Linked DNA regions of Homo sapiens: region 2 is linked to region 1. Evidence: fine-mapped expression QTL. Tissue or cell type: tibial artery. Region 1 holds a variant in brackets; the other region holds the start of a gene. All regions are shown on one strand. Distances are between the middles of the regions.

What was found. PIP is the estimated chance that this variant, and not a neighbour inherited with it, causes the effect.
Region 2: CALCOCO2 starts here. The variant in region 1 is fine-mapped to the expression of CALCOCO2 in tibial artery (GTEx, PIP 0.92).

The regions. Positions count from the first base shown.
Region 1 is chr17:48,875,730-48,879,729 of GRCh38, reverse strand. It overlaps LOC105371814 (a long non-coding RNA gene), which reads left to right. Exons shown (of 4, transcript NR_135674.1): 3 at 385-466. Among named protein-coding and RNA genes, the nearest start is that of ATP5MC1, 15 kb to the left of the region's middle. RefSeq lists an enhancer at 539-638. The variant G/A (reference allele first, on the strand shown) is at 2,299.
Region 2 is chr17:48,829,437-48,833,436 of GRCh38, reverse strand. It overlaps CALCOCO2 (calcium binding and coiled-coil domain 2), which reads right to left and starts at 2,402. Exons shown (of 13, transcript NM_005831.5): 1 at 2,359-2,402. RefSeq lists a silencer at 1,987-2,146 and an enhancer at 1,517-2,398.

The DNA of each region.
Region 1 (4,000 bases):
GTACAGGTGAGCACCACCACACCTGGCTCACTTCCTGTTTTTTGAGTGGGAGTTTCACTATCTGGTCCCACCTGCCTCTCTAGCTGGGTCTTGACTGTTCGGTACTATGCATGCTCCAGCTTTGCCACACCTCTTGCTGGCCCTCAACAAGCCTGCATTTCTACACTGCCATTCCTTCTGCCCCGAATGCCTTTCCTCCCCAGCACTACATGGCAAACTTCTACACATCCTTCAAGGCCCATCTTGAATGCCACCTTCCCTGTGATGACCTCCCCTATTGCCCCAGACTTATTTCCTTGCCTTCAGTGCTCCCATAGAACTTGGTGCACATCTACTCCAGTAGTCATTGCACAGAACAGTAATCATTTGTTTATGTGTTTGCAGTCACTGCTACAACATGGTGACCTCCTGGAGAACAGGGACGTGTGGTGTTTCTCTTTGTATTTGTCTTTTGTTCCCAGAACAGGTAAGTACACGGTGCCGGGTATAGGTAGGTACTCGCTCAATAAATGTGAATGAGTGAACGAGTGGTGGGGTTGATCTTATCCTGAAAGAGGGAGCTCCCCACCTGCACTTTCCTGTAGCAATCTCTAGAGGGCAGTCTCACACCATGCTTGTCTTCTCTAGCCTCCGCCCAAGTTGCTTTTTTTCTACCATAGACAGCTCAGATAGATATGGGTGGGTGGATAGATGGATGGAAGGATGGACAGATGGACGAATGAACGAACGGATGGATGGATGGGTGGATGAATAGATAGATAGGGTGGGCATGGTTCACATGGGCTCTGGAGTTGACAAGCTCTGGGACCAGGGAATCCAACCAAGTCAGCCTAAGCACTGGAGGGACTGCTGGCCCATCCCTTAGACACAATGGCTTAGGAGCTAGGGCTTATTATTGAAACCTGGAAAAAAGTTATTGTTTTCAAAATAAAAAAGACAGTTGCAAAATGGCATTGGATAAATATTGAAATAAATGGCTACAAAACAAAATCTCAACCAACTGCAACTCAACTCAGTTTGTATATATAGTTTATGTATAAACCACATTTCAGGCAGGGCATGGTGGCTCACGCCTGTAATCCCAGCACTTTGGGAGGCTGAGGTGAGCGGATCACCAGAGGTCAGGAGTTTGAGACCAGACTGACCAACATGGGGAAACCCCATCTCTAATAAAAATACAAAAATTAGCCAGGCGTGGTGGCACTCCAGCCTGGGCGACAAGAGCGAAACTCCATCTCAAAAAGAAAAAAAAAATTCTGTGGGATGTCAGTGCATTTTAATATTTTTGACATGATGTGGGCACTCCTTAAAGTGTCAAGGGCCCTTGACTTCTTGGAAAGGCCCTGCAAGGAGCAAGCAGAATGGAACCCAATACTCCCCACCAGAGGGCTCAGGACTCTGTTCATTATAAGTCCCAGTGCTGAGTCTGAGGCTGCAGGTCCAGTCCCTCTTCCTGCTGAGGGCTCTGGAGCCAAGCCCACGAAGATAACATTCAGTAACACAGGCTGCCCTCAACCACAGTCTTTCCTAATCTCAAGGTAAGATGGGAGAGGGGTGGTGGTATTTCATTTACTTAAGCTCCTACATGGGGGAGATACTGAATAGGAAGAGGCTGTCTCCTGGGACTGCTGGCTCGGGGGTGGAATGGACAGGAGACAAGAACAGAACCAAGTGTCGTGTACGCATGCCTGTAGTCCTGGCTACTCAGGAGGCTGAAGGTGGGAGGATCACTTAAGCCTGGGAGATTGAGGCTGCAGTGAGCCGAGATTGCACCACTGTACTCCAGCCTAGGTGACAGAATGAGAGCCTGTCTCCAGAAAAAAAAAAAAGTCAAGATTCAAGGGCATCTGATGTCAAACCTAGTGCTCTTAATCACTACATCATAATCATACCCTCTTTCAGAGTGACCTGCCCAATTTCACAAAGCTGTTAATCAGGTGGCAGGGAAGAACACGTATTGAGTGCTTACAATCAGCGTGTGTCAGGCGCTGCTCTAAATGCTCTACCCATTTTAACTCATCTAGCTGTAGCAGAGACTATAATTGTCAATGCCATTTTACAAATGGGGAAACCAAAGCCAAGAGCGGTTGAGTGACTTGTCTAAAGTTGCCACCAGACAGTCTAGTTCCAGAGTCTGGGCTCTTCACCATGATGACCTACTAGCCTGTCTACTTTATGGAGGGACAAGGTTTGGGGTTGTCAAAACTCGGGGTCAAAAATGACAGGACAAATGGAATAGAGGATGGGCAGGATGGATGCAGGGGTATGTGAGGTATGTGAAAGAGGTGAAACATGAAG[G/A]AGAACCCAACCACAGATGTTCACAGATGTTCTCTGCTGTTTCCTCAGTAGGAACTCAATGCTGAGTTCCTATCGAAACTACTGACAGCATATCTCCCCAAATATCATTTCCTTAAAAGGCATTTTGTCAGTGTCCTTTTTTTTTTTTTTTAAGAAATGGCGTCTCACTTTGTTGCACAGGCTGGAGTGCAGTGGTGTGATCTTGGCTCACTGCAACCTCAGCCTCCCAGGTTCAAGCAATTCTCCTGTCTCAGCTTCCTGAGTAGCTGAGATTACAAGCACTTGCCACCACACCCAGCGAATTATTGTATTTTTAATAGAGCTGGGGTTTCACCATGTTGGCCAGGCTGGCCTCGAACTCCTGACCTCAAGTGATCTGCCCGCCTTGGCCTCCCAAAGTGCTGGGATTACAGGCCATGCTCAGCCTGTCAAAGTGTCTTACTTAGCAAATACAGCTGCTTTGCAAACAGGGGTTCCTTTTTCCCTTGTGACTAGGGCCACTGTTCTGCCAGAATGGCTATCTAGTCCTCCAGATAGGGTTAGGAGCCACTTTGTTGAGAAGGATATGAGCAAGATGGCTGTGCAGGGGGAATGACTGGTGTGGACTTCATCAGAGATTGAATTAAGTGATGGAAAGGGAACGTTCCATGGCTCTCGTCCCTAATAGAAATCTATTCAGGGTCTTTGGCATCAGCACTAGGTTTCCTGACTCAAAGGGAAGTCATAAGGACAGGTTTACAGAGGTAGAATGATCCCATTTGGAGAAAGGAGAACTGGAAAGAGACACAGAGCATCTGTAATTAAGTGCAAGAGCTCTGAAGTTGGACTGCCTGAATTAAAATCCCAACTCTGTAGGCAGGGCATGGTGGCTCACACCTGTAATCCCAGCACTTTGGGAGGCTGAGGCTGGCAGATCGCTTGAGCCCAGGAGTTTGAGACCAGCCTGGGCAACATGGTGAAACCCCGTCTCTACAAAAAATACAAAAATTCTGGCAGAGCGCGGTGGCTCATGTCTATAATCCCAGCATTTTGGGAGGCCGAGGTGGGTGAGACCAGCCTGGCCAACAAGGTGAAACCCTGACTCTGTCTCAAAAAAAAACAACAACCAAAAAACACAAAAATTCACTGGCCATGGTGGTGCACACCTATAGTCTCAGCCACTCAGGAGGCTGAGGTGGGAAGATTGCTTTAGCCCACAAAGTAGAGGCTGCAGTGAGCTGAGATCATGCCACTGCACTCCAGCCTGGGCAACAAAGCAGGACTCTGTCTCAAAAAAATAAAAAAATCCCAACCCTGTATGACCATGCGTGATTTACTCAACCTCTCTCCGTGACCCATCTGTGAAATGGATTTATTCATAACTTTGTTAATTATCACATATTAACGATTAATGTTTTGTTGTGGGGGTTAAAATCATCAAATATGAAGTGCTTAACACAGTGCTTACCATATAAGCACTCAATGCCTACTTTTTTTTTGTGAGACGGAGTCTGGCTCTGTTGCCCAGGCTGGAGTGCAGTGGCGCGATCTCGGCTTACTGCAAGCTCCGCCTCCCGAGTTCACGCCATTCTCCTGCCTCAGCCTCCGGAGTAGCTGGGACTACAGGCGCCCGCCACCATGCCCAGCTAATTTTTGTATTTTTAGTAGAGATGGGGTTTCACCATGTTAGCCAGGATGGCCTCGATCTCCTGACCTTGTGATC
Region 2 (4,000 bases), 46 kb after region 1:
ACTACATGCATGTGCCACCATGTCCGGTTAATTTTTGTATTTTTAGTAGAGACGGGGTTTCACTATGTTGGCCAAGTTGGTCTCTAACTCCTGACCTCGTGATCCACCCACCTTGGCCTCCCAAAGTGCTGGGATTACAGGCGTGAGCCACTGTGCCCGGCCTTCTGCTTACTTTTCTTTCTAAACGATTAGCAATTAGCAAAAATGGATGAATTGATTTGAATCCCGTTTCTCCCTGGCTATGGCAGAAATGCTTACACATAACCAGCCTTAAAGAATACCAGCAGTGGATACTATGGGTGTGTGTAGATGGCCCTGAAACAGGTAGCAAAAGCAAAGACACAATCACTGGTCTTCAAATTATCGAGCCATTTGCTCTAGCCCAAAATTTCCAAGTTAATTCTAGACCCTTACCTAAAATATGAAAATGTTTCAGAGTGTCTTACAAAAATTTTACACCCCAGGAGGCCTTTATTACTACTCATTAACAATTGTTTGAATTTGCTGTCCAGCTTTTTCTAAACAGGCCCTCATCTCACATCCACACCACCATAGTGCTGGCGCCAGTTCTAGGGGAAGATGGAAAAAATAGTTCTGGGACATCAGGTGCGGGCAACTGGAAACTCTGAAAGGCTCAAAGCTGTGTACTAATCTCCATTTTACTGAGACCATCCACTTTTCCCTTGACAGGGGTGATTCTAACATGCCATGTCCCTGTGACATGGGCAGTGACAGTGTTTGAAGTGTGGTGGAAAGGGGACTAGGCTAACAGCCAAGGGAGCTGGGTTCCTATCTTAGTTCTGCCACTCTGAGAGCTTGGCCAAGTCACAGTACCCTTTTCTGGCCTGTTTCCTCATCAGCAAAATGCATGGCTAAGGCTAGAAAATCTTCAAGGACCTTGCCTGATATAATGATGATCCTAAGTGAAGGAAAAAAGAAGTGAAAGAGTTCATTTAACTCTCTTTTCATCTAAAAATAATTAAGGATACATGACATTCTATCAATACATACTGCCAAATTAAATTTTTGTTTGTTTGTTTTTTGAGACGGAGTCTCACTCTGTTGCCCAGGCTGGAGTGCAGTGGCGCCATCTCGGCTCACCGCACCCTCCGCTGTCTGGGTCCAAGCGATTCTCCTGCCTCAGCCTCCCAAGTAGCTGGGATTACAGGCGCCCGCCACCACGCTCCACTAATTTTTGTATTTTTAGTAAAGACAGCGTTTTGCTATGTTTGCCAAGCTGGTCTTGAACTCCTGACCTCAGGTGATTCTGCCCGCCTGGGCCTCCCAAAGTGCTGAGATTACAGGCGTGAGCCACCGCGCCTAGTCAGCCAAATTAAATTTTTAAAGAGCCACAGATGTACTATCTGACTCGAAAGACAATATGACCTGTTAGTGCCAGGTAACTCAGGATTATCGACTACCTTTTTCAAGGCCCTTTCCATTCCACAGCTGTCATGTCTGCCAAAGGATAGAGTTTCCAGGTCCCTTGAAAATACCTGGGAAACTGAGCCATCTGGATATTCCTTAATCATGTATTCTCCACAAGCTACAAAGACCTACCACATAAAGTCCTTTACTTGCAATGGTGTTTCCAATAATAGAATAAGTTATATTATCCATATTTTACTCAGCTCCAACCATGGTCACTTGTTGGCTTGCATGTGAAGCAAGAATCCAAGTGATAGAAAAGAGTTAACACGTCCAGTGGGGTTGAAATAATATACGAGTGGGAACATTAGCTCCCAAACTAAGCTGGGTCAGTGGTGGAGGGGCAATGGATTAACTGTAGAGGCAGGTCACGACACCGTCTTTCCTCCTGCCTAGAACGTCTTCTCCGACAGCTGCAGCATGCAAAAGGCAAGGCGCTTCAGGGATCAAACCTACTCGTAAAGGGGGACACTGAGGCCCAAAAAGAAAGTAACTTGCTCAGGGTGACGCAACAAGGCTCCACCTCCGCCTCGAAGCCAACGGCGATGACATCCAGGCGAGGGATTACGGAACCACCACAGCCTGGGCCCGCGGGAGGGGACGGGACGCCACGACCCGTGGGGCGGCAGCCGCCGCCTCAAGACCCTCGCCGCCGCCAGGGGTGTCACTTCTTCCCGAGGAGCCTCCCACCCTGCCACACAGCACTGCAGCGCTGCCCTCCGCAAGACAAAACTGCCCCGCAACCCTCCCGGGCCGCGGGAGGGGCTCCAGGGCCTTCAGAACACCACTCCCACTATCACCCCAGAGGGTGAACTGCGGTGAGAACCGAAACTTGCCACACCTCTACCCCCGTGGCCCCTTCTCAGGACTGCAAGTCTGAATGTGGGCACCCCGAGGGCCTAACTGCCCCTTTCCACTTGAGGCACTCACCAGGGACAGCAACCAGCAGCGGCGCGACAGCAACAGGGCAGAGTGGGACGGGGGCGGGGCTAAGCACCCAAGGGAGAGCCCGTCCCGCCTGCCCCGCCCACACGTCACAACGGTCAGCAAGCCCCGCCCCCGCGCGGCGCTTGCTGGGACTTGTAGTGTTCAGGTGACCGGGCCCCAGGAGCGGTCTTCTGCCTTTGATGGCTCTCCTAAGTCCTGAGCAGCAATCTCACCGAAATAAACCTACTTCATCCCCTGGAAGAAGCTGTTTACTTTTCTTTTTTTTCTTTTATACCTTTATTTCTTTTTTCTTTTTCTGTCGTCCAGGCTAGAGTGCCATGGTGCGAACACGGCTTACTGCAGCCCCGACCTCCCGGGCTCAGGTGATCCTCCCACTTCAGCCTCCTGAGTAGCTGGGACAACCACGGTGCCCATACGGCGCCCGCCACCACGCCAGGCTAATTTTTGTATTTTTAGTAGAGATGGGGTTTTGCCATGTTGCCTAGGCTGGTCTTGAACTCCTGGGCTCAAGAGGTCCAGCTGCCTCGGCCTCCCAAAGTGTTGGGATTACAGACCTGAGTCATCGCGCCTGGGCTACATCTTTATGTCTTTCTTCCCTGAATGAGAAAGCTTTATACATTTGAAGGGCCATTAAGAGGTCATCTTCATTTTTCTCCTGGGTCCACTTAACACTACTTCACGAAGAGTCTTTATTTTTTTTGAGACAAGGTCTCACTCTGTTGCCCAGGCTGGTGTGCAGCGGGGCGATCTCGGCTCAGTGCAACCTCTGCCTCCTGAGTTCAAGCTATTCTCGTGCCTCAGCCTCCCCAGTAGCTGGGATTACAGGCACCCGCCACCATGCCCGGCTCATTTTTTTGTATTTTTAGTAGAGACGGGGTTTCACCATGTTGGCCAGGCTGGCCTTGAACTCCGTCTCAAAAAGAAAAAAGAGAATAAACTCATGGCCAGGCACAGTAGCTCACGCCTGTAATCCCAACATTTTGGGTGGCCGAGGTGGGAGATCTCTTGAGCCCAGAAATTTCAGATCATCCTGGACAAGATAGGGAGACCCTGTCTCCACAAAAAATAAAAAAATTAGCCGGGTGTGGCGGTGGGCCCCTGTAGTCCCAGCTACTCAGGAGGCTGAGGTGGTAGGATCACTTGAGCCTGGGAGGTGGAGGCTGCCATAAGCCATGATCACACCACTGCACTCCAGTCTGGGAGACAGAGCGAGACCCTGTCTCAAAAAAAAAAAAAAAAAAAAAAAAAAAGAATAAACTCAGTAAGAAAAGAATTCTGCTAAGTCAATTTAAAGAAAATCCCCCATCCTTAATATCTAATAACCCTGGCCTGCCTTCAACAAGAGTCCTGTTAAGTTGGTTTAACAAGAATCTCCTTTTAGTAATTTTCCATGCAGTGACCCCTCACTCTGCTTGTTGGCTATAAATCCCACTTGTCATTATTGTATTCAGAGTGCAGCATAATCTCCCCTTTGGTCCTGAATAAATTCTTCCTTGCCATTTTAACAAGTTTCAGAATATTTTTTTCTTTAACATCCAGAAGATGTTAAATGCTGTATATGCTGTCTATGAAAGATTAAATTTGGAAGTGCCCCTTCTTCCACTGTTTAAATGTGGAAAGAAAT